Linked DNA regions of Homo sapiens. The protein of the gene in region 3 interacts with the protein of the main gene of each other region in a biochemical or structural test. Each region holds a gene or a part of one and is shown on either strand. Other genes may lie near its edges.

The links.
Region 1: the proteins of DLG1 (region 3) and MTMR1 interact in a test that uses a peptide from one of them, tested with the Homo sapiens proteins (2 studies listed by IntAct, with this or other methods).
Region 2: the proteins of DLG1 (region 3) and DUSP5 interact in a test that uses a peptide from one of them, tested with the Homo sapiens proteins (one large-scale study listed by IntAct).
Region 4: the proteins of DLG1 (region 3) and VANGL2 interact in a surface display test, tested with the Homo sapiens proteins (one large-scale study listed by IntAct).
Region 5: the proteins of DLG1 (region 3) and SCN4A interact in a test that uses a peptide from one of them, tested with the Homo sapiens proteins (one large-scale study listed by IntAct).
Region 6: the proteins of DLG1 (region 3) and PLEKHG7 interact in a test that uses a peptide from one of them, tested with the Homo sapiens proteins (one large-scale study listed by IntAct).
Region 7: the proteins of DLG1 (region 3) and ADGRA1 interact in a test that uses a peptide from one of them, tested with the Homo sapiens proteins (one large-scale study listed by IntAct).

Annotation. Positions count from the first base shown.
Region 1 is NC_000023.11:150,724,396-150,727,895, forward strand, and holds part of MTMR1 (phosphatidylinositol-3-phosphate phosphatase MTMR1), read left to right. Parts: intron 1-2,819; coding exon 2,820-2,914; intron 2,915-3,288; coding exon 3,289-3,396; intron 3,397-3,500. UniProt on the Homo sapiens protein: Lipid phosphatase that specifically dephosphorylates the D-3 position of phosphatidylinositol 3-phosphate, generating phosphatidylinositol. Could also dephosphorylate phosphatidylinositol 3,5-bisphosphate to produce phosphatidylinositol 5-phosphate.
Region 2 is NC_000010.11:110,504,407-110,507,906, reverse strand, and holds part of DUSP5 (dual specificity protein phosphatase 5), read right to left. Parts: intron 973-3,500; coding exon 753-972; intron 1-752. UniProt on the Homo sapiens protein: Dual specificity protein phosphatase; active with phosphotyrosine, phosphoserine and phosphothreonine residues. The highest relative activity is toward ERK1.
Region 3 is NC_000003.12:197,043,613-197,047,112, forward strand, and holds part of DLG1 (disks large homolog 1), read right to left. Parts: intron 1,118-3,500; coding exon 1,011-1,117; 3' UTR 1-1,010. UniProt on the Homo sapiens protein: Essential multidomain scaffolding protein required for normal development. Recruits channels, receptors and signaling molecules to discrete plasma membrane domains in polarized cells.
Region 4 is NC_000001.11:160,414,064-160,417,563, forward strand, and holds part of VANGL2 (vang-like protein 2), read left to right. Parts: intron 1-1,584; 5' UTR 1,585-1,774; coding exon 1,775-1,845; intron 1,846-1,998; coding exon 1,999-2,119; intron 2,120-3,500. UniProt on the Homo sapiens protein: Involved in the control of early morphogenesis and patterning of both axial midline structures and the development of neural plate. Plays a role in the regulation of planar cell polarity, particularly in the orientation of stereociliary bundles in the cochlea.
Region 5 is NC_000017.11:63,962,919-63,966,418, forward strand, and holds part of SCN4A (sodium channel protein type 4 subunit alpha), read right to left. Parts: intron 3,326-3,500; coding exon 3,184-3,325; intron 1,760-3,183; coding exon 1,550-1,759; intron 1,291-1,549; exon of another isoform or gene 1,166-1,290; intron 908-1,165; coding exon 754-907; intron 397-753; exon of another isoform or gene 347-396; intron 1-346. UniProt on the Homo sapiens protein: Pore-forming subunit of Nav1.4, a voltage-gated sodium (Nav) channel that directly mediates the depolarizing phase of action potentials in excitable membranes.
Region 6 is NC_000012.12:92,737,489-92,740,988, forward strand, and holds part of PLEKHG7 (pleckstrin homology domain-containing family G member 7), read left to right. Parts: coding exon 1-33; intron 34-3,364; coding exon 3,365-3,460; intron 3,461-3,500.
Region 7 is NC_000010.11:133,094,424-133,097,923, reverse strand, and holds part of ADGRA1 (adhesion G protein-coupled receptor A1), read right to left. Parts: intron 951-3,500; coding exon 823-950; intron 1-822.

The DNA.
Region 1 (3,500 bases), on a different chromosome or scaffold from region 3:
AAGTATCTATTCTTGTCCTTTGCCCACTTTTTAATGGGGTTGTTTGTGTTTTTTCTTGTAAATTTGTTAAATTCCTTATAGATGCTGGATATTAGACCTTTGTCAGATGCATAGTTTGCAAATATTTTCTCCCATTCTGTAGGCTGTTTACTTTGTTGATAGTTTCTTTTGCTGTGCGGAAGCTCTTTAGTTTCATTAGATTCCATTTGTCAACTTTTGCTTTTATTGTGATTGCTTTTGGCATCTTTATCATGAAATCTTTGCCAGTTCCTATGTCCAGAATGGTACTGCCTAGGTTGTCTTCCAGGGTTTTTACAGATTTGGGTTATACATTTAGGTCTCTAATCCATCTTGAATTGATTTTTGTATATGGTGTAAGGAAGGGATCCAGTTTCAGTCATCTGCATATAGCTAGCTAATTATCCCAGCACCATTTGTTGAATAAGGAATTCTTTCCCTATTGCTTGCTTTTGTTGAAGATCAGAGGGTTGTAGGTGTGCACCCTTATTTCTGGGCGCTCTATTCTGTTCCACTTGTCTATGTGTGTCTGTTTTTGTACCAGTACCATGCTGTTTTGGTTACTGTGGGCCTGTAGTATAGTTTGAAGTCTGGTAACATGATGCCTCCAGCTTTGTTCTTTTTGCTTAGGATTGCCTTGGCTATTCTTTTTGGTTCCATATGAATTTTTAAATAGTTTTTTTCTAGTTCTGGGAATGTCATTGGTAGTTTGATAGGAATGGCATTGAATCTATAAATTGCTTTGGGCAGTATGGCCATTTTCACGATATTGATTGTTCCTATCCATGAGCATGGAATGTGTTTCCATTTGTTTATGTCATCTCTAATTTCTTCGAGCAGTATTTTGTAATTCTCATTGTACAGATCTTTCACCTCCCTGGGTAGCCATATTCCTAGGTATTTTATTCTTTTTGTGGCTATTGTGAATGGGATTGCATTCCTGATTTGGCTGTTGGCCTGGCTGTTGTTAGTGTATAGGAATGCTAGTGATTTTTGTATGCTGATTTTGTATCCTGAAACTTTATCAAAGTTGTTTATCAGCTGAAGGAGCTTTTGGGTCGAGACTATGGGGTTTTTACTTTTTAGAATTCTATTTTATGTCCTGTGATTGCATATTAGCTATAATTGTTTGTTTTGTTATGTAACTAGTTATTTTACATCTTTATGTCTACCTTCAAATGATTGTATGCTGCTTCATGTACAGGATAAGAACCTTATAGTAGTATACTCCCATTTGTCCCCTCCTACCCTTTATGCTGTTGTTGTCATCCATTTTACTTTTACATATGTTATAAACCCCACAATATATTGTTTTTGTTTTTGTTTAAACAGTTATCTTTTAAGGATAATGATAATAATGCCTTAGTCTCCTACAGAAGCACTTGCCAATCCACTCCCTGCCAACTTCTCTGGCCTCATATTCGACTGTCCTCACTGCACCCATTGATCCAGGCATACTAACCTCTAACAACTTATCACTGTGCCCTTCCTCCCTTCCTTCTCTTACTCCCCCTACCCACTTTCCTATTGAGTTAAGTTGATCCTTTTCTGAACTTCCATTGTAATACTTTGTGTCCACATTGTTATTTTAGCTTTTGTCAACCTCTAGTGCAGGGATCCCCAACCCATGGGCCGTGGATCAGCACTGGTCCATGGCCTGTTAGGAACGGGGCTGCACAGCAGGAGGTGAGCAGCGGGCTAGTGAGCATTATCGCCTGAGCTCCGTCTCCTGTCGGATCAGCGGTGGCATTAGATTCTCACAGGAGCGTGAACCCTGTTGTGAATTGCGCATGTGAGGAATCTAGGTTGTATGTTCCTTATGAGGGTCTAATGCCTGATAATCTGAGGTGAAACAGTTTCATCCTGAAACCATCCCCCTACCTCTGCCCTGGTCCATGGAACAGTTGTCTTCCATGAAACCAGTCCCTGGTGCCGAAAAGGTTGGGGACCTCTGCTCTAGTATAATGGCGATTTTTCTGTGTGGTATCTCTCACAGGTCATGGGCTGCTCATGGACAGGAACTTCTTCCAATTATACCCAGAATCCCAGCAATAGAAGGCTCTCAGTACATAAGGAGTATAGAAAAGTTCAATGGAAGTATTCTGAGAATTTGGTTCAATGACGTTAATGCCTTTTGTTGTCTCACTTGGACTCATATATAGCTATGTATATTCTTGTCATTCCAGTGGAATGGCACTTTGGGAAAACATGAAGATGTGGTATCTTTGTGATAGAAGTGAGCTTCTTAACACTAATGGGAATTAAATATGTCACGCACTTAATAGATATTGACAAAAAATTAAAACTGATAAGGGGATAAGGAATTTGAAATAAGTCTTTTTCCATTTCATTGATGTGGTTCTAGGTTTTGTCTTCTGTAAAAAGAGTTTCCTTTGGAGATGCATTAGGAGACAATCTTTAGTTTTCATTAGTTTTAAGTAGCAGTAATTCATGAAACAGTAGCCCAGGGTTTTCAGAGTTTAATTAATGTTTTGAATATGATTAATTTATCACCCAGGGAAAATGTTAACTACCTAGGAAAAATGACAGAATATAACTTCTTATGAGGCCCTTTACTTAAAACCTCATTAAGTAGCAAATCAGAATTTTGTTTTAAAAAATTGAAATTTATTAGAAGACTATGCATCTCTCTATATTGAAAGTCATAATTGATATAATCCTATAAAATACAAAATTCCTGGAAAACTGGAATCACAAATATATATTTGGAAAACTCGTGTTAAGTTTTATGGAAGCACAAGTCTATGGCAGTAGTTGCTACTTTGGCCTTTTTCTTTCAGTGAAAGATGTCATGTATATCTGCCCATTTATGGGAGCAGTGAGTGGAACCCTGACAGTGACGGACTTTAAGCTGTACTTCAAAAATGTCGAGAGGGTGAGTTTTTTAAAGTGTGTTTTATTTTAAAAGAAACACTTTTAAAAGAACACTAAAAGAAGAAAGTAAAAAGTCCCCTGAAATCCCATTACCCTGAGATAACCACAGGTTGGATTTTGAGATGCACACATTTGCAAACAGATGTTTGTATCTTGAAAACAAAGGCTGTTAAAGTACCGCTTAAACCTGGAGGGGAAATTCCATTGTTGTCTCAATATATATTTCACAAGGAATGCTGTCAATCAGACTTCAATTTAGCTGGGACAAAGAGGAAATGCGAAGTAAACAAACATGTTTTGTAACCCAGCAAAGACTTAAAATATGAAAACTGTTGACTGACACTAATAGGCATTGATCTTAATTTTTGAACCTAGGACCCGCATTTTATCCTTGATGTTCCCCTTGGAGTGATCAGCAGAGTGGAGAAGATTGGAGCACAGAGCCATGGAGACAATTCCTGTGGTATAGAGATAGTGTGCAAGGTATAATAGAAACGCCAAGTGAAAACTAAAAGAGGGCAATCAGCTCTGAACTTTTTCTCCCTCAGTCTCTTCATGGTCTTTGGACAGTAGAATAATTTGTACTG
Region 2 (3,500 bases), on a different chromosome or scaffold from region 3:
AAGTCAGGCCAGCCTCCTAGGAAGATGGATGGGGGAGGAGAAGATGCCAAATGGGAGAACAATCCAGGCAACACAGAGGACCTGGAAACCCTAAGGCCACAGCCCTTTCCTGGCAGAGGGACCAGAGGCCAAGGCCTCGGTTTTCAGGTCTATGCAATGGAATAAATAACTGCGTAACAAGAATGCAGAAAGCAGGCAAAAGATGCCAACTTTTCTGTGCATACAGCATGGAGCTTGAGTCAAGTGCTATCTTTAATCCAAAATTAGCTGAAAATGCAAAACAAATTGCCCCAAGCCGTTCACCAAGAGTATGGAAAGCTGCTGGGGGCCCTTGGGGCTCAGTGCGTAAGTAGTGCTCTCTGAATCCTTCTGTTTGCTTTTAAAAATAAACCCAACCTACGTAGAAGCACAGTTAGGGAGGTTCTTCCCCCTGCTTTCCTTGTGTGGAGCATTACGCAGGGATACACTCAGCTCCTGCCCAGCTAGAAACAATAACAAGATCGACAGTGAGTACTGCCATAAAATTATATTAATTCATTTATCTTGCAAATTAAAGCTCCTATTCATAGCAACTTAAATCCTCCCTTCCACCTTTTTGGTAGCTGCATCCCATGTTGGCTCCAACTCTCAGCAGCGGCATATACAAGACACTTTTCTTTCAGTGAAGGTAGCTTCCATCAGGGCATCAAAAGTCAAGAACACATGCCCCAAAGGGGCTCCCAAAATAACTGAAGGGGAATGGCTAAACCTACCAATGAAGTCTATTGCTTCTTGAAAGTGGGAGCTAATGTCAGCCGTGTGGCTGTCTTCCACAGGGATCCATTTGTAGTGTAGGTGGGTCGCGCAGGCCTCGGAGGTCCGTCGGGAGACATTCAGCAGGGCTGTGATGTGCAGGTTGGCGAGGAACTCGCACTTGGATGCATGGTAGGCACTTCCAAGGTAGAGGAAGGGAAGGATTTCAACTGGGCCACCCTGGATGCAGGGACAAAGGACAATCAGGAAATATTGGATTAGCTTGTTCATTTGAGAGAGGAAAAAACAACTCCGACCTATTTGTTTCTTAAGATGGGTGGTTCCCTTTCTGGTTTCCAAGTGGAGTTCAGAGCCAGGGCAGTTCAACCAAGTGTGGTTGTATCTCCATCCTGGCCAACTCTCTACCTTATGTGACTGCCTTGTGACTCAATGACAGCAAAATCCACACAGCAAAGAGTTCACTTTTTTGCACATATCCAGGAGGCAGGATATGCCGACAGCCTTCCTGCGCTGACAAGGATGAGAAGCCATGTGGTAATATGGGAAAAATTGACAGGCCTGTGTTGAAGTTACAGCTGCCCTGAGAGTACCAGGGCAATCTCCTATGCCTTGGGACAGTCTTGCTTTCTTTACAGATAAAATGGACCAGGACTCAACATGGTGTGTGTCCTCCTTTACAGCCTTGACATTTTACATAGTGTATTTTTTTTTTCCTTTTTGGAAAGACAGAGTCTTGCTCCGTCACCCAGGCTGCAGTGCAGCGGCACAATCATAGCTCACTGTAATCTTGAATTCCTACGCTGAAGAGATCCTACCGTCTCAGTCTCCCGAGTAGCTGGGCCTACAGGCATGTACCACCATGCCTGGCTAATTTTATAATTTTTTTGGTAGAGATGAGTTCTTGCTATGTTGCCCAGAATGGTCTTCAACTCCTGGCCTCAAGCGATCTTCCTACCTCAGCCTCCTGAAGTGCTGGGATTATAGGCATGAGCTACCAAGCCTAGCCTATATGGTGTATTTCATCAAACCTAAGACACTGTTGATCCTAAGATGCACCCAGGTTTTAGAGATGTTAAAATGCACCTCCACCTCCACAAAAAAGTATGCTTTTTAGAAATGAAAATAACCACTACCTACTCAGAATCTTTAGATAAAAAATGTTGTCAGGCCACAAGCAGAGGGGCTTCCCCGCCTCTGACCTTCTTCACACGGGGGTTTGTTGAAGGTGCTGGTGAGACCCGCTTACAGAGCCATCCTTTTGGGAGGCTACCCACACCCCAGATTTCTAGTCAAGGGGGAACCAGAGACCATCCACCTTGAGGCAAAACTAAAATGAACCGCTGGTTAGACTCTGGCAGTCACAGCATTTACAGGGCTCTGAAGGTGGCAGAAAAGCTAGTGATGGTTGGAAAAATGGGAGCCCTTAGAGACTGAGAGGGAAACAAGGGGCTGGGTGACAGTGGCTGTGTCTTTGGGAGCCTTTCCCATGCCAACCATCTGCTTCCTGTGTTTCCATTTCCTGCCCTGGAATAAGAACGGAATGGAAACTCTCAGCCAGATCCCTAACAGGGAAGGGTGCGTGGGACAGGGGCCAGCCACAGGCAATTCTCAATTTACCCCACACCCGGAGTTAGCTTTTTGTTTCCTGAGAAGTCAAGTGTTTAAGCAAAGGCCAGTTCAGTCACTTGAAAGAAAATTACACAAGATTTTACATACGGTAATAACAACTGGTATTTTTATCAGCATCTACTATGGCTGGCCTCTGGGGGCTTAACCCTTTAGATGTGCCTACATCATACCAATTTCACAAAATCTGTGAGGTAGGTAACATTATTCCCATTTTACGGATGGGCAACTTGAGGCTCAGATGCATTTAATAACTTGTCCAAGTCAGAGCTAGTCAGTGGTAGAGCTGGGCTGAAACCCAAAACTGATTGCGTAGCATGAGATGCAAGGCCTTGTCTGACTCCATTTCAATAGTGATCAATATGAGAAAGTAAGTATTTCAGGTAAAGACAGGAAGGAAAAAATTCCCTCTTTCCTCTCTTCCTCTAGAGATAAAATGTCCATCTGCATCACCTCCTCGAAACCTCCCAAACTTCCATGCGTACAGAGCAGCCTTCCTGGTGGCAAAGTGGTGCAGTGGTTAACAACCTGGGCTTGGGCGTCAGACAGCGGAGCTCTTGGTTAAGTTCCAGAGCTCCATGCTTACTACCTGATGTGATCTTGGATAGCTTCTTTAATCTATGACCCTTTGTCTCTAAACTGGGGATAATACCTATCCTCTCTGGATAATTGGTAAGGTGTAAATGGGATAATGAATGCATTAAAACCTGGCACGTCACATAGCTGCCACTGTCATAGAGATTGAAGAATGAACAGAACATGGCTTCTCTCCATGGGGAAGACACAGGTTTTTAGGCAATCCAAGCAGGTCTAGTCCTGACCTGAGTTGGACCCACTCCCTGGGCACAGCATCCCCACCAGCTAGAAACCAGGAAAACAGCAGAGGTGGTACAAAGTTCTTTGGAAAGGAGTCAGAGTTCCAAGTCCAGATTCACGTGGCCACTGATGACTTATGGGTCCCCACCAATGGACACTAACAGGCTCGCCCTTTAAGGAGCAGGCTGGATGGTTGACTCAAGATCTCTTCCTCTCCTGAGTGCCTGGAAATTGCTGATACACCAGACCTGGGATCCTATCCAGTTTCTTTTGGAGCTCAGCCCAACACACCCCTGAAACTACAT
Region 3 (3,500 bases):
AGAAAATAATTCCCATAGTTACAGTTTAAAGAAAGTTTTATATATATATTTATATATATTTTATTATAACAAAATAGGCAGCTATTGTGGGTAAAATATTCAGTAAAATCTGACTCCTAAGAATACATTTGAAGTTTTAGGCTATGAATTGGACTCCTTTCCATTGCCATGATGGTTACTACGTCACCACTGTAACGTCTGATTTATCTGTATTTATATCTAGGAAATTTTCTCAATCTTCTGTGTAAAAGGCGAACTTCCTTAGCACCTGAACATGGCCTCAATTCACGAAATGTGATGATCATTTACATATGAACAACTTTTGTAAGACACGATAGTGTTGCTCAAGTAGATTAAAAACATTGAAACGTTGTTATTCCTAGCAAATGTCCTGGGAAAAAAGAACCGTCAAATACTAAAAGGCTTTAAGAATGTTGAGGAAAAAATGAAATCCCTTATGAAAGTCAACTCAGACATGAATTTTTAAATTAAAAAATGTCCTTATTTATCTATAATGAAACAATTGCTTTGATGATAGAAGTTGATTGAGAAAAGGACTTGAGAGTAATACACTGGCCAAACCATGCTATTAAACTGAAGCGTGCACAGTTGCTCAAAGTCTACTAAATCACTGATTAAAACCACTTTTTCATTTGTACTGAAATTTGAAAAGAATGTATATAAAGCTTTTCCAAAAATCTCTTAAAGTTACTTTCCCTTAAACATTAAGGAATTTTACCACAATTTCTGCGTCTCCCCACGTTCTTAATAGCTGGTCAGGCCATTCCATCTTCAGTTCTGAAAAATGGCCACTAACCAATAGTGACATTAAATAATACACACGATGTAACTTGAAGGAGACACTACATGTGAAAAAGAAGCTGCAGACCATGATGTGTGGGATACAATTCAACATGAAATCAGTACTCAAGAAAGACTCCAGAGGAAAGGGCAAAGAGATGCCAAAGAAAATGGAATTGTGGAAAAGAGAAACAGAGAAACATGAGTTTTCATAGCTTTTCTTTTGCCGGAACCCAGATGTAAGAACCAGATTGTTCTTCTATGATCTGTTTCACTTGGTTGTAAATGTCTTCCAGCGTATCCCCCTGTACAATAGCTGTAATGATAGAAACAAAATCAGAAATCTCCATTAATTGTCTATTTTTGCCATTACAATTATTGATGAAATAGTAGAAGCTAGTATCTTTGAAAAAGTTACTCATCCAGGAAGAATCACCATTTACACACTGTTCACTTAGGAAAAAAGGCTCACTTCATTAATTTTCCTATTTATATAGTATAAAATTTTTATCTTAAAAATGGATCAAAAAGTAAGACTTGGAGATCTTTTCTTTTGTTCTTTTACCATCTGAGCATATATTAGCTTTATTATTTTAAAACAAATTATTTTCTTAACTTTCCTGATTTCTCCATAAACATATGTAGAAAAAAGGAAACTGGGTACAATCCCATAGACAGGATGATGTAAGGATAATTTTTTTTTTTTTTGGGGTAGGATCTTGGGGGAAAAGAGCTGATTACAGATTGATACTACTTTTTTCAGTTAAGCTAGCATGTCAGGTACTGTAGTGTAGGTGAATTGAGAGATACCTAAGCTAGCTTGTTAGTGGTTAGAGACTTAACAATCAATGTTTATTTGCTGTCTGAAATAATGTGTGAAAAAAAGAGTAACAATTACTAACAACTAATTCTTTGGGAATAGCTGAAGCCCCTGAGGTCTGTGAGGGATTAGTTAATAAAGCAAACAAACAAACAAAAACAAAGTATCGCTAGACAGCACTAAGCATGAGTAACTAACTTTTTAAGAAAGAAAGAAAATGTTTATGGTTGGGCATGGTGGCTCATGCCTGCAATCCTAGCACTTTGGGAGGCTGAAGTGGGAGGGTTGCTTGAGGCTAGGAGTTTGAGATCAGCCTGGGGAACATAGTGAGACCCTGTGTATTTAAAAAAAAAAAAAAATAGCTGGGCATGGTGGTGTGTGTCTGTAATCCTGGCTACTTGGGAGGCTGAGACAGGAGGATGATCTCTTGAGCCCAGGAGTTCACAACTGCAGTGAGCTATGATCGTACCATTGGATTGTACCATTTGCCTGGGTGACAGAGTGGAACCTTGTGTCTCGTAAAAAAGTTTACATATAAATGAAATAATTGAGAATTGCAAATTAAATAAGTCACTTACTAAACTACAAAAAAATGCCCAGTGATCTTGGAAGAGCATCATAGGTGTAGATTTCCATGGTCTGAAAAACTGAGCATAAAATGTCAAAGGGGGATTTTAAATAATACTGTCTATTTGGTACCTGAGATGATGTGCATAGAAGAAAGACGTTGTATGTAGGTAGGAAGCACTTATACATAGCTAGGAACGCCTGAATAACCAAGAATTTTCAGTAACATGATATTCGCTAGTATCAGTTTTGTGAGACTTCTACCTTTTGAGCTAAATGCAGACATGCCTCAATGTCCCTGAAGACTCAGTTCATTTGACAAAATACTTGGTTCGTGGGTTTGGCATCTTGATGCACCCCAACAGCACAGGACAGAATCCCAGAGCATTTCATAGTTTAGGTTGACAACAGCACGCAAGGATTTATTTTAGAGCATTTCATAGTTTAGGTTGACAACAGCACGCAAGGATTTATTTTAGGAGAAAACAGTCAGGAACTGACTTGGGAAATATACATTTTGCTTACTTTGTAAATTCATTAATGGAATGGTTAGTAAACCAGGGAAACTGGGAAAGCATAAGGCTGCAGACACCTTAACCATGTGATTAAAATTAGCATCATAAGTAACGGCACAAGTAGACTTTGTAAACCTCCTTGCATGATACACAGAGGACACATCATTACTTCATTGCTATTCCTGCCCCAAATGCAGAACCTAAATCGAATTATGAGAAAACATCAGATAAATCCAAATTGAGGGAGGGACATTTTATAAAAGAATGGGTCTTTGGCCGGGTGCAGTGGCTCACGCCTGTAGTCCCACCACTTTGGGAGGTCAAGGTGAAGGTGGGCGGATTGGATGAGTTTGAGACCAGCCTGGGCAACATGGCGAAATCCTGTCTCTACAAAAAATACAAAAATTAGCTGGGCATGTTGGCTGTAGCCTGTAGTCCCAGCTCCTTGGGAGGCTGAGGTGGGAGGATCACTTGAGCCTGGGAGGTGGAGGTTCCAGTGAACTGAGATCGCACCATTGCACTCCAGCCTGGGTGACAGAGTGAGACCCTGGCTCAAAAAAAAACAAAAGACAAAAAACAAAACGAAACAAAAAACAAAACGAAACAAAAAACAACAAAAAATCCCCCCTAGTGTTTTTACTCTTAAAAAATGTCAGTCAGGGTCATGAATAACAAGACTTGGGAACGATTTCAGATTAAAGAACATTAAGGATGTGATAATCCAATACAGCACGTGAGCCTCCGCTGGATCCTGCACCAGAACAGAAAAACCATTTTTTTCCATTTTGCTCTAAAGA
Region 4 (3,500 bases), on a different chromosome or scaffold from region 3:
AAGTCTCAAACATGACTGTTACTCACTCTTCTGTGGCTCTACCCTTAGCAAGCCTGTACTACTGCAGTCGCCTCCTTATTGATCTCCCTGTTTCTATTTTTCCCTCTTTTCAATCCATATCTGCATAGCTAAAATCCTTCAAAGTTTTCCTGTGGCCTTAGAATAAAATAAAGCTCAAGCTCTTCACCTGGTGCCTGGCTGTCTCTGCAGTGCCACCTTCTACCACCCACTCTCTTCCTCAACTCTAGCTCCACTGGCCTTTGTTGGTTCTTTAAATACAACAAGCTCTTTCCTGCCTTTGGCCTTCACACATGTGATTCCTCTGCTCCATGGGCATTTTCCTGCACTCTTTGCTTGGTTAATTCCTATTTCTTCTTCAGGCCTCTGCTGAGGTGTCCTTTTCTCAGACTTTCTAGAACCGCTAAGTTTAAAGTGGTAGCCCTTACTCCATGGGTGTCTCTCATAGTTTGCTGTTCTGCCCTTCCATCATGCCTGCAATCGGTCGTTTATACTTATCTGCTTACTTGTTTGGTGTGCCCCTTCCCTGCTAGACTGTAAACTCAGGGTCTGTTATACCACTTTATACCTAGCAGAATACATGGTTCATAGAAGGTGCTCAAACAAGATTTGATGCGTCAATGACTGAAGATAGGAAGTAAGCGCTCGGTGGATGGTGATGGCTGTTAGGGGAGTCAGGGTCAGCAGGGAAGATAACATTGGGTCTAGAGTAGGTGGGGGCTCCTATGAGGGGGTGGGGCCGGGCTCTGAAGAATGAGCAGGATTTGGGTGGGGGTTAGAGAGAGGAGAGGTCATTCTCCTCTGCAGAATCAGAAGGTGAAGTATGGTTGAAGATAAGCCTATAAATAGGCAGATAAACTTGTGCCTTGCCTGTTTCAGAACTTCAGGCAAGTAGAAACTTGTCTTCTCCTCCCATCCCCTACCATATTATCCATAGTTTCCACCCCTCACCCTCACCTGGGGCTGTGCATATGTGTGGCAACCTCAAGGAAGCTGCCAGCCTGATCTTACCGGTAACACTGGGTGTGTTTGAAGTAAATGCTGGGGAGATGGTATCAAGGGAAGCAGCCCACTGTGGGCACACTCAGAAAGTATGAGTGAGGGGAGGAGGTGTAGCATGGGGAGAAGAGGCCTGGGGTAGCCCCTGGACAGAAGCCCGCTCCTTTCTGCTCTCTGAGGTGTCCACTGATTCAGCCTGTTGGCCTGGCCAGAACCTGCCCTCTTCATGCCTCGGTTTCCCTGGCTGAGAATAGGGAAGCAATGCCCTGCTCCTCCCTTCCAGAGGGCTTGGGGTTGGGTCATTCTGGGTGAGCCTTCCTGCCCTGGGAGCCTTTGCTGGCCATCTTCCCCCATGCCTGAGTCCTTGGCACAGCCTGGCAGGGCTCTTTCTAGAGAAGGGTAGGAGGAACTGGGCCCAGTGGACAGCAGGAACCTGGGTGGAGATATTCTCAGGCTATGGCTGGGCTCATTTGAGCCTCCTGTGGCTGTTGTGTGCAGATGGTCTTCCTCTGCCCTGACCCCACAGGGAGCTCGAGCCGCCTCTAACTAGCTTCTTCCTCTCACCAGGAGCGTCGCTGGATTTTCTCTGAGACAAGCCCACCCGTCCAGCAAAATAGAGTCCCTCAGGGTGACAGTTGACTTCCTGAAGGTGCCTCTTGGCCTAAAGAAGCCGGTGCTGAAGGAGGTGGCTGTGGGGCCCCCCAAGAGGCCCCAGCCTGCGGCCCTGGAGCGCTACAAGGCGCGGCGTTCAGACGCCATGGACACCGAGTCCCAGTACTCGGGCTATTCCTACAAGTCGGGCCACTCCCGCAGCTCCCGCAAGCACAGGTGGGCAGGCATGCAGGGTGACATGCGTGGCGGAGGGAGGGTTGGGGGCTGTTAAGAGGTGGGCACGTGCAGGGGTGGTAGGGTAGAGTGGCTGCTGAGAAGACCCTGGTCCACCACTGGACTTTCTGTGCCTTTTCTGGCTTCCTGCCGCAGGGACCGCCGGGACCGACACCGCTCTAAGAGTCGAGATGGGGGCCGAGGGGACAAGTCGGTGACAATCCAGGCTCCCGGGGAGCCCCTGCTGGACAATGAGTCCACACGAGGGGATGAGCGGGTGAGCACTGGGGATGCGGTGGTCCAGACCGGGCATTTTCAGACTGCTCCTGAGGGGCTGGAGGCTCCACGGAGTGGGGGAGGGCTTGGAAACCTGGTCTCAGACAGCCATCAGATCGGGGAGTGTGTTTTGTGTTACACTTAGCTTGGCTTAGTGTCTTAAGGTAGGACCTTCAGGAATTTCAGTATAGAGATCCCTCTGGAAGCAGCAGCCTCTCCTTCCTTATCTCCAGAGGAGTGGGGGGTGACCTGGGCTGTATGATGGGAATTGGCCAGCTCCTCTGGAGCTGCCGCCAGCCAGTCAGGCCCGCTGGGAGTCTGGAGCAGGAGGGTGGTGGTGGTGGCTGGGCCTGGGGTATGTGTGAGCAAAGCTGAGTATTCCTGGAGCCTCGAGATGTGGGCACTCTGTGCCCTCTGGTGTCAGCCTGTAGAATGGCGTCACCTAGATCTTGGGAAAGGAGTATGGGAAGAGTAGATGGAGAAAGCCCAAGGGACAAGAAGTAAGGCTGAGGGATGGAGCAGGGACCCCAGGAGAGAGTTCTCCAGGACAGGGGTGAGCAGGTTTTCTATTCTAACCTCTGCTGCCCACTGTGCTCACCTGGTAGGGAGGACAGTGGGCAGAACACAGTCCTGGAATAGGGCAGAGGCAGGATTTTAGGTGACACTGAGGTTGCCCAAGTCTCATTCCCCTTGGGATCATCTTTGGGGGCTGGAGATTCCCAGCTCCTTTTTCCTCAGAAGAAATCTCTGTGGCTGACATTGGGAATTCCTGGGCCTTGGGAGCAGGTCAATACCTGAAGGAAATGTTCTTTTTCCCTCTCTCCCAATCCCTTCTTCCTGGGGCCTGGCCTCCTGAGTTCTTGAAGTGACCCTGAGACATGACCAGCTCACCTGCTACTGGGGAGGAGATCCCAAGCCCTTGGTCCTTGGAGGGGGTGGGCAGTATGTCTAGGGGTCAGAGGGCGGGGAGCAGACCCAGGGCTTTGAGCTGAAGGCAGTCAGTGCATCTGCTTTCTATCTTCACATCAGACTCGTTCCCCATCCTGTAGAGAGGAGGTTCCTCAACCTCCCTAATCACTGGTGCTGTCGGGCTGCCTTCATCCTGTAACCTCAACCTCCTGGGTGTCAGGTTGTGATTCCATATCCCCAGGCTGTCCCAGGAGCGAAGGGTGGGTGCTGAAGGCAGCTGGTGGTCTTGGGACTCCTCCGTGGGATGGCCTCCAGCCACTGCAGAGAAACAGCTTGAGCAGACCACACTTAGAGGGACACCTGGGGACCTCAGCCTGGCCACCTTCTTGCCTCCAGAGACAGGTAGCCTCTGCACTGTAGACATTTAGATGGCCCAGCAGAGGTGGCCTTGCAGACCAGAGACCCAGAGTGGC
Region 5 (3,500 bases), on a different chromosome or scaffold from region 3:
AGAGATCTGCAAAGTCCTGCAGGGCCCCCAACTCCCTGGCACAAGGCAAGCCGACCTGGGGAGGGAACCACATCTCTGTGTGTCAGAATTCCTTTTCTCTATTGTCCCTTTTTCCTGTGCTTCCTCCTTCCCTCCTGCCTCCCTACTTCCCTCCCTCTCATCCATCCATCCATCCATCCATCCGTCCGTCCATCCATCTGTCCATCCATCTGTCGTGTCGTGTCTATTCACCCTCTCTCATCATGACATCCTTATTCTTCTGAGATTCAGCATGTGGCACAGGGATTGGGGAGTCTGTCACTCTGTTTGGGCAGAATTTGACTTTTGGCCTTTAACTTTTACCCAGAGAACACTTGAGGAGCAGGATGTCCAGTTTCCGGAACATTGGGCCTTCTGGTTAGTATTATTAGCCTGTGCTTCCCATTGGGCAGTCCCCAAGGCCCTCCCGGAAGCCCCCAGTTCCCATAGCAGCCTGGCCTTGCAGCTAGAACTGGGCCAGGTTAAGACAGGACTATATTTGTGACAGCCAGAAATGGCTGTGATAAATATAGTATAAATATAGCCATTTCTTCTATGCCAATATTAAGTTACTGTCCTGAAGCTGGTCCAGCCAGGCCCCACCCTGACCTCAGGGGCCTGAATGGGTAGAGGGGGCACAGGGCACTCACCTTCCATGGCATCCCTATCCTCCTGAATCCAGTCCAGCCAGGCTCCACCCCTACCTAAGTGGGCACGGGGGCACAAGGCACTCACCTTCCATGGCGTCGGAGATGCCGCTGTCTCCGCTGCTGCTCTGCCTCGGGGCTCCCTTCTCCCCTTGCGATGTGTCCAGGCTGCCATTGCAGTCTTTGCCATGGGCTGGGTCCCCATCTGCCTCCCCACCTTCCAGAGCTTGGGCGGCCTTGGCCTGTAGACCAGCAAGAGTGACTGGCAGGAAGTCCAGCTCTGAGCCAGAGGGATGGACTAATTGACCCTCAGAGCTTCTTCCAGAGTCCTTCAGGGTGGCAGCCCCTCTTCCTGGCCTGTGTCAAACTTAGTGCAGGTGGGGGAGGGACCAACCTCCATGGTGGTGGGGGTGACAGGGTAGGGACCAAAGTGACTAAAGACCCTCTGCCCTGAAGACCCTTGACTCTGATGCCCTGACTAACCCTCCACTTGTTGACAGAATGAGAAACTGGTCAGCCGCTCCCTGTGGCCTCATCAGGACCTGCCCTTCCCTCAGTATGGACCTATCCACTACCCAGAAAGCATCACAAAATCAGAAATATTTGAGCTGGAAGAATACTTCAGGTTTAGCTACTCCAGATTCCTTGTTATAGACAGGGAAACTGAGGCACAGAGCAGAGAAATGCTTTTTCTACTGCTTGGATCCCTCCATCCCCCTGCCACCAGCAAAGCTCCCAGCCCAGGGCCTTCTGCTCCTTCTGCCTCAAAACCCCTACCCCTGTACCCTCCCTCACCCTCGGCCCCCCAGGGAGAAGCCAGTGGCAGCCCCGGCTGAGGGCAGGTAGAACCCTGGGTCCTCTATCTCCTTTCCCTGAGTCCAGACCTTCTCCAGCTCCTCCTGGTGCTTTTTGAACTTCTCAAGCATCTGCTGAAACTCCTCCTCTTTCTCCTTATCCTCGGCCAGGGTGGCCTCATTCTGCTCGGCATATGCCATGGCCACCACGGCCAGGATCAGATTGATGAGGTAGAAAGAGCCCAGGAAGATGATGACCACGAAGAAGATCATGTAGGTCTTGCCAGCTGCTCGAAGGGTCTGGGAGTGGAGGGAGAGGGAGTGGAGGGGTCCCATGACGTCCACCTCCTTTGACCCAGTGCCCCTTTCCATACATCCATTGCCCGCATGGGTAAGCAGAGCCCCTCCCTCACAGAGCCTGGGGGACTGATGGCCGTCATTGGCATGCTGAGCCATGTTCTGGGGAACTTCAAAATATCTACTTGGGACTCAAACGTTTCTGGTCTCCTGGCTCAGAGGAGGACCGAAGCCAGGCATCCTGTTATCAGAGAGCCAGGATAGAAAATTGGTGAACATGGGTTTGGGGTCAGCTTGAATTCTAGCTTTGCCACAGTGCCTGGCACCTAGTAAGAACTCAACAAATAGTAGCTATTATTATTATTTAATCAATTTATTTATTTATTTTTAGACGTAGTCTCACTCTGTTGCCCAGGCTGGAGTGCAGCGGTGTGATCTCGGCTCACTGCAACCTCCACCTCCCAGGTTGAAGTGATTCTCCTTCCTCAGTCTCCTGAGTAGCTGGGATTACAGGTGTTTGCCACCAAACCTGGCTAATTTTTGTATTTTTTGTAGAGATGGGTTTCGCCATGCTGGCCAGGCTGGTCTCAAACTTCTGACCTCAAGTGATCTGCCTGCCTCGGCCTCCCATAGTGCTAGGATTATAGGCATGAGCCACTGCACCCAGCCAGTAGCTGTTATTATTTTTGTTATTGTTATCAACACCATCAATGTTAGAAACATCACATGGCATCAGAAGGCACTGTCACTCCAGGCTCAGCCTGCCTTCCCTGCAAACAGTAGAAGGCAAATAAAGTATGGGCAACATCGAATTTCTGTCTTTCTTTTTTTTCAGACGGAGTCTCGCTCTGTCGCCCAGGCTGGAGTGCAATGGCGTGGTCTCGGCTCACTGCCACCTCCGCCTCCCGGGTTCAAGCAATTCTCCCTCCTCAGCCTCCTGAGTAGCTGGGAATATAGGCCCGTGCCACCATACCCGGCTAATTTTTGTATTTTTAGTAGAGATGGGGTTTCACTATGTTGGCCAGGCTGGTCTCGAACTCCTGACCTCGTGATCCGCCCACCTCTGCCTCCCAAAGTGCTGGGATTTCAGGCGTGAGCCACCGCGCCCGGCAGGCAGCATTGGATTTCTAAGCTGCCCTACTGGCTATCATGAGGCCTAGGGGGTCCTGGGCTTGTGCCTATGCTAGGTCCAGACCTTGGCTCTGAAAGCAAAGGTGTGGAAAGAATTAAAGCTGTGGCTTGGCTCGGGGCAGGTGTCTAGTTTCAGAGAGCACAAGCTCCTATAAGGGCACTGCGGGAGTCCATGAGGAGATGGCCCAGTTCGGGGGTTGGCCATCCTGTGGTAGGCCCCATCAGGCCCTGAAGAGGCTGCAGGGATGGAGGGGGAGTGGCTGTAGGGTTGGGGGGCAGGGTGGGGGCAGCTGTACCAGCTGGAAGAGGTTCTCCCAATAGTCCTGTGTCATGAGGCGGAAGAGAGCCAAGAAGGCCCAGCTGAAGGTGTCATAGCTGGTGTAGCCATAGTTGGGGTTCCGCCCGGTCTTGATGCACTCATAACCCTCAGGGCAGTGCCTAGGAATAGGACAGGGGGCTGGGTTTAGGGTGGGAGGAGCACTCCAGCTGGGGGCAGATAGGGACCCCAAGGGAAAAATTCCGTCAGTTCTGCCTGTGTCCCCCAAACAGAAAAGTATTCCATCCATGCCCACAGGTTTCCCTGCACTCCCATGCCCCCCAGGTCCTCATCTCT
Region 6 (3,500 bases), on a different chromosome or scaffold from region 3:
TATTTTTTGGACCATTTATTAGTTCTTAAGATGGTAATGCCAGGCTTAATTTTTGTAGTAGATGGAAAATATTAATTTGTTTTTTTGGGCACTTGTTTTCCTCTTCTGAAAGAAATAAAGAAAAGAAAGAGAGAAAAGAAAGAAAGAGAAAGAGAGACAAAGAGAAAGAAAGGAAGGAAGGAAAGGAAGGAAGACAAGAAAAGAAAAAGAGAGAAAGAGAAGAAGAGGGAGGGAAGGAAGGAGGGAGGAAGGGAGGGAGGGAGGAAGGAAGGAAGGAAGGAAGGGAAAGAGAGGGAACGGGAGGCCAGGTGAGGCTTTTTTCTCCCTCTTTCAGGGGATCGTGAAAATTTTTATTTGTCATTTATTTTTGTTTACCTATTACTCTACTGTCTCTTTATACTTTAACATTGGATGAGATCGTCTAAGTGAACTAGTCCAGTGTCCCATCCGATGTTGAATGAATCTCTTCTGCCTTGTCTCACCAGTTTGCACACTCCTGAGCCAGGGAGCTTACACCCTTCTCAGGCAGTCCATTGCATCTTTGCTCGGCTTTCTCTCTCGGAGCTCTTGCTCCCTCGTGAACAGTACCAGGTGAATGCTTTTTATCAGCTGCAGGGCCACCATTGCAGATATAGGGGGCTACCACCCACATGCAATTTAGTACTGTTGAATTACATGGTATATTCATGATGTCTTTCATGTAAATAGCACCCCTATGGTCGCAGCCATGCTCTGGTGAGGCTCAGAACACAGAATTTTTTCTAGAAGAACAATAGAGCAAGGAAGAGAACCATAGAGCAGCTTCCTCCCAGGACCACAGGGGAGGATGGGCCACACAGCTCCCAAGGTTGCCTCTGCCCACCGCACTTTTGCATCCTGGTGACTGTCTTACACAGCCAAAAGGCACTGTGCTGGCAGATCTGAGTTCAAGCCCTGGCTCTGCCTCTGTTTTGCCTTGTGACCTTAGAAAAGTCTAGTCCTTCATACCCTAAACCAGGGGTTGACAAATCTTTTCTGCAGAGGTGCAGACAGTAAATATTTTGGGCTTTTCAGGCTATATAGTTTTTGTTGCAACCACTTAACTCTGCCATTGCAGTACAAAAGCAGCCTAAAGGAATGTGCATGACTGTCACCCAGAAAACATCATTTACAAAAACAGGTGGCAGGCCAGATTAAGCTCACAGGCTGCATACTTTGACAGTCCTTGTCCTAAGCTGTAAAAGAGAAATGACAATACCATCCCTGGCTATCTCATAAGACCATTATGATGATCAAATTAGTTTTCTTTGAAATCTATCAAGTGCTATACAAATGTCAGTTATTTTCTGTAAGTAATATTTTTTGTCAATCACAGTGCTAAATCCTTAACTTAGCAAAATGTGAACCGCAAAGACACTCTAGGAGAAAACTGAAATTTAGAGACAATATCAGTTAGGATGCTTACAAGAGCACGTAATAGAAAACTAGCTTAAATAATACAGGATTTTATTAGTCCATGTGACTGCAAAGTTCAGAGGTGGGAGAGAATTCAAGGCATGTTTGATCAAGGGCTCAAAACAAAACAAAACAAAACAAAACAACATTTCTTCCCATCTCTCACCCTGCCTTCCATGGCATTAGCCACATCCTATGGCTGGCTTCTCTTGTAGTCACAGCCTGGTTGCTATCCTTGAGCTAATGGCCAGAGAGAGAGAGAGATCTTCTCAGCATTCATAGCAGAAGTCTTGAGATTTATTCTGATTGGACTGGCTTAGATCACGTGCCCACCCGTGAGCCAAATCCTCTAGCTCTGTAAAGAAGGAATGTGCCAATTGGCTTAAGGCAGTCAAGGCCCACCCCTGGGAATGAGATCAGCTTGCCACATGGCACATGTGCAGCCTGGGGAAGAGTAGACACTGAGGTGAAAACCATGCTGTTTTTAGGGAAGGGGAGTATTGCAGGGGGTGGTAACAATAAATGTTCACCGCAGAGAACGAAGCCCCTGAGTTATGCCACCTTCCTTGTCCTAAGAAACTGCACAGAACTTTCTATCCCACTGTAAGCTGTCCAAGCTTTTCAAACTGACATTTCCTGTTTAAGAAAAGGCCAATTTGAGCTCACTGTCAAATACCTCAGTGTATTTAAAGTATATATGTACCTTCCTTTTACACAATCAATATGTTTTCCAAAAGTGCTTATGAATTAAAAATTTGTAACTCATATAATAAATATACTGGAAGACTCAGTATTTTTTTTAAATAGCAAAATTTCTGTAAAGCAAAGAATCTTATAGCAAAAGTAGTATTTCTTCCAAATTGTCCTAATCTATCTGTAGTAATGAGTTCTGTTTCTTACAATCATGTTTTAAATGCTTGGATATTGACAAATTTCCAGACAACCAATACTCCATGGATTTTAAAAGGTCTAAGTGGTTCTTGACAGGTGGCCTCTAGACCAGCAGCATCAGAATCCCTTGGTGACTTGTTGGAAATGCATGTTCTCAGACCCCGTCACAGATGAGGGTGGGGGCCCAGCAAGCTCTGGTGTAACAAAGTTGCCAGGTGATTCCGATGCAAGTTCAAGAACCACTCATTACACTAATGAAATAATACAGGAATAGGAATTGGAGAAGGTTATCTATCTAAAGCCCAGTCTTTTAACCCCTAAAATTCTTGAAATAATTTGTCCTTTTGTCCCTTTGAATGCTTCCTGTCTTATGTATACAAAGTATTTCTTTTTCAATAAATTGATCTCTCTTCAGTTTATAGAATGAAGGGCAGGCTATCTGTAAGTGAGGATTGTACTTTTTTTTGACTTGCTGTATAGTTCTCCAATTTGTGAAATCATCAAATTAAGTGAAAATAACATAAAAACTCCCTCAATGTTTTCATCCATGTTTAATGCCTCTAAACAAACTGAAACATTTTACCAGTTATCAGAGATTAACTCATTAAATATCTACTTTTAATTCCCTGAAAGTAAAGTATATTTGGGTCTTTTGCAGAAGAAAGAGCATATGAGAATACACCATGAATATTGTTTTGCTCTCAAGTTAGTAGTGTTGTTGGCAAGAAGAGAATCTTTGGGATTTCTTTGGCACTAGAAGTAGAGGAAGCCCATTTGGACAGATTATGTTCAATAGGAATGTTGTTAGAATTCACATAAGCAACCACAACTTTCATACTGAAAAGCTCATTTCCAATATGTTCTTTGAAGCTTAAATGTGACCATTTGTCTTGAGTATAACATTTAAACCTTGAGAGTGCTGATTTCTCCATTGTTTTGTAAAGTTACACCCAGGAGGTTTATGTTTAAAGTTCTTGCAAAAGGCATGTTGCAAAATTAAAAAACAGAAATTAATGTGTATATATTTTTTATTTCAAAGATCTTTATGAATACACTAAGATATCTGCAAACTCATGAATATCTCCTAGATGTGGATTTATGGAGACTTTTTGCAAACCTGGAGGAGTTAACTCAGGTGAGCCAAGTAGGAAGATTCATGTTTTAACATTCACTAG
Region 7 (3,500 bases), on a different chromosome or scaffold from region 3:
GATCAGGGACCTTGAGAAAGAGGCCCCCAGAGTGCCTCACCCTCCACATGCAGGGACACAGGCAGGGACACAGGCAGTGGGTGCCGTCTGTGAGCCTGGAGCTGGCCCTCTCCAGACGCACCAGACACAGCGTCATGGGTGCCTTGATCTGGGACCTCGGCCTCCAGAACTGAGAAGTCAGTTTCTCCTGTCGATAAACCATCGAGGCCCCCGTGTTCTGCTGCAGCAGCCCAAACAGACCAAGATGACAGTTTCGGAACCGCCCAAGCCTCTTCCTGTGATCACAGCCTCGTGTGTGCCCGAGTCTCTGATGAGACTGTGGCCCTGGGCGCCTCTAAGCTCTGTCCGTGACCGAGGCGACCTTGGCCTCAGACATAGCCGAACCCCCGCCCATGACTGGCTGTGGGCATGCCCACCCTGACTGCGGCTGGACACCCTCATGTTCTTGGTGCCTCTCCCAGGCTCTGCAGGCCATAGTGACTGCCCGGGGGAACTGAGCTCCTCAGGGTGCCTGGACGGACACCACACCTATTTCTGGAAGAACTTATTTTGCCCAGTTAAGGACACGGGGGATGCCGTGGAGAAGACCCTGACGGAGGCCTGAGTGGACAGGCGCGGCTTCCCTGAGCTCCATCCACCCTTCGGCTGTGTGATGGGCACCAGGCTGCTGAGCGGGTCTGAGCTAGCTGGTGACCTGAGTTGTACCTTCAAGGACTTCTTGCTACATGAGGGGGCAGTGGCATTGCCCTTCAGGGACTTGCCTTTGAAGGTAAAAGCAGGTTTCTTGGGCACAGGGGGCGCCCTTGCCCATGCCAGGCTCACCTCTGGTGCACGATGTAGGTGACGAAGGAGGCCAGGAGGCAGAGCAGCATGACGGCCGTGCACGCGTACACCACGGGGTGCAGGAACTCCCCTGGGTAGCGGGGCAGGGAGAGCACTGTCTTCAGATCCTGAGGATAAAGCAAAGGAGACGTGTGTGACTGGCTGGTGGGTCTGTGTGGGCGGCGCCGTCGCCTGAGCCTACCCTTGGGGCTCGGCTTCCCCTGCAGCCGCTCCAGGCATTTTCGTGTGGGGTCTCAGGGAAGGGGGGCTGCCTGGGGAGGTACGGTCAGGCTGCGTCTGTGGATGCTCAGGGAGTGCACGGGAGGGGCCCCACGTGGCCACGGAGTGCTGTCTGTCCTCGCCCTCCACTGGCTCTGCTGGCCAAAGGCATCCTTGTGTGGCTCTGAGGCTGGCTCCTGGGGCCATGTATCGGCCGACTGATGCCTGCCTCCAGCCTCCTCTCTTCCCGTGGCCTGCGGGTGGCCAGGTGGGATCTGGATGGGCCTTACAGAGAGGCAGGGAAACCATGGGATGGCCCCAGCCCTGCACTGGGAGCCCCACACTCATCGAAACCCTGCTTGTCAACATCTTCCGGGAGGATTCTGTACGAGCTTCTGCGAGAGGTGGAGAAAGAGTGGAGACTGTTCGGCACCAACAGACCTGGACCGGAGGCCGCAAACTCCACCTGCTTCTCGGCCCAAGAAAAGGGTTCAGGGTCAGAGTTCAAAGGGGAATGTGTGTTCTCTGTGGCAGAGTAGACTGGGGGAAAATCGACCCAGCTGGAAAGGCTTGGAGCTGATGGAGCTTCATCTTTTCTTCATCAGGTGAGTGAGGTGAGCTCACCGGGGAAGCACAGAGGGGTGCACAGGCTGGGGAGGGGGCTTCAGGGGCATCAGCCCAGAAACATGCGTGCACAGGCCCAGGAGGGGGCCTCGGGGCACCAGCCTGCACTCAGCTCTGTCTCAGGCTTCCAGCCTCCAGACTGTGGGAAACATGTCTGTGCTTCAGGGCCCCACTGTGTAGGGTTTAGTTATGAACCTCAGGCAGGCGAGCAGGGTGGGTGCCATGTTCCGGTAAGAACCCTGTGGGTGGGTGCCAGCAGGGGTGAGGGCTGCAGCCGCCTGGCCCCTCCCCAGCCCCCTGGTGATCGCTGCACCTGTGCCAGGCTCCAGCCACTCTGACCACGCCATGGATGCTGCCCTGGGCATCGGGGCAGGAGGAGGCAGCCGGCCGGGCCTCTGGGATGGCTCCGGCTGAGTGAGGCGGGAAGTGGAGAGGGACCCTCCTGTGCAGGAAGGGCCATGGGCAGAGGCAGTGTCACCTGTGTCGGGATGCAGGCAGCCAGCGGGCCCGAGAGCTCCTGCTTCCCTCCTGAGGCCACACTTCTTGTCCGTCCAGCCAAGACGAGGCCCTGGCTGGCTAGAGAGTGTCCACCGTGGACAGAGGGTGCTCTGGGGAGCCAAGGGACTGGCTGACAGTCAAAGCCCGAAATAGGGCCCCTGCCCCAGGGTTCGAACAGCACTGGCCAGGCGGGCACCGGAGGGGCCCTGCATCCCGGGACGAGGAGCCTGGACCTGTGCGAGGGCGAAGGCACCTGGGAGAGGAGCGGGCGTCGCTGTGGGGCCGCAGAGCTGGAGTGACAGCAGACACTTTGCTTTCCGGGGAGTGTTTAGAATCTGCCCATTTCTTCCTGGACACCAGGACCCCACAGAGAGACAGCGCCCTGTGGTTCAGGCTTGGCTCTGAGGCCCACCCTGGACAGAGGCCCCTGAGGGTTTTCGGGGGAGTCAGGGCCCAGGAGAGCCCCACCCTCACTCTGCCCCTCTGTAAAGAGGTGAGCTGGGTGGGCCTCTGTCCAGATTCTCCTGAGTGCCCCAGAGCCCGAAGCGTCAGTTGCCTCCTGCAACAGTCGTGGGGTGAGTGTCCGGTCCGAGCTCCAGCTGGGGCTCCTGCTTCCCCCAGAGATCAGCCCAGGGACAGCCCGGCCAACTGTGGACATTCGCACGTCCCTCCTTGGTGTTCTGGCTACTGGAGTGCTTGCCATCAGGAGACGATGCATGGGGGCTCTGGCGTGGCTCGGGCGGTGCCAGGCTGGTTGTCCCACGTTTGCTGGTTTAGTAGGCGCCCACTTCCTGCCACGTGCAAACAGCTCCAAAGTCACAGAAAAGCATGTTTTCCCGGCCAAATCCCGACATCAGGTTATCCAGTGAGTTATCTGCTGCTGGGAGGTGGAGAATGCCCCATGTGGGTAGAAGAACTGAAGTTTTAACAGGGCGTGAGCGACGCCCCAGATTCTTGTCCCCAGGATTCTTCCACGAGAGTCAATGGCTTTTCCTCCAAGACATTGACCCAGGGTCTAAAATAAACCTGAACGCTCTACACAGTTCCGACGAGCCATTGTTGCAAACCCAGATCCGCGAGAGAAGCCAAGAGAGTGGGGTCCACTCTGTGTCCAGCCCTCTCCGAGTCTATCGGAGCATTTCCTCAGTGAGTCGCCTGGAACAAGGACTTCGTTCTCATCTGTTGTGTTGAAGAGCCTGGGGTGGTCTGCCCCGGGCCCTCACGCGTCCTCTCACGGCCTCCCTGGGGCTGCTGTGGCCGCCGCGCCTTCCTGCAGGACTCAGACTCCTGCTCAGCTACGGGGGCGAGGGGCGGTGCCACTGTGGGCGGAGGCGCAG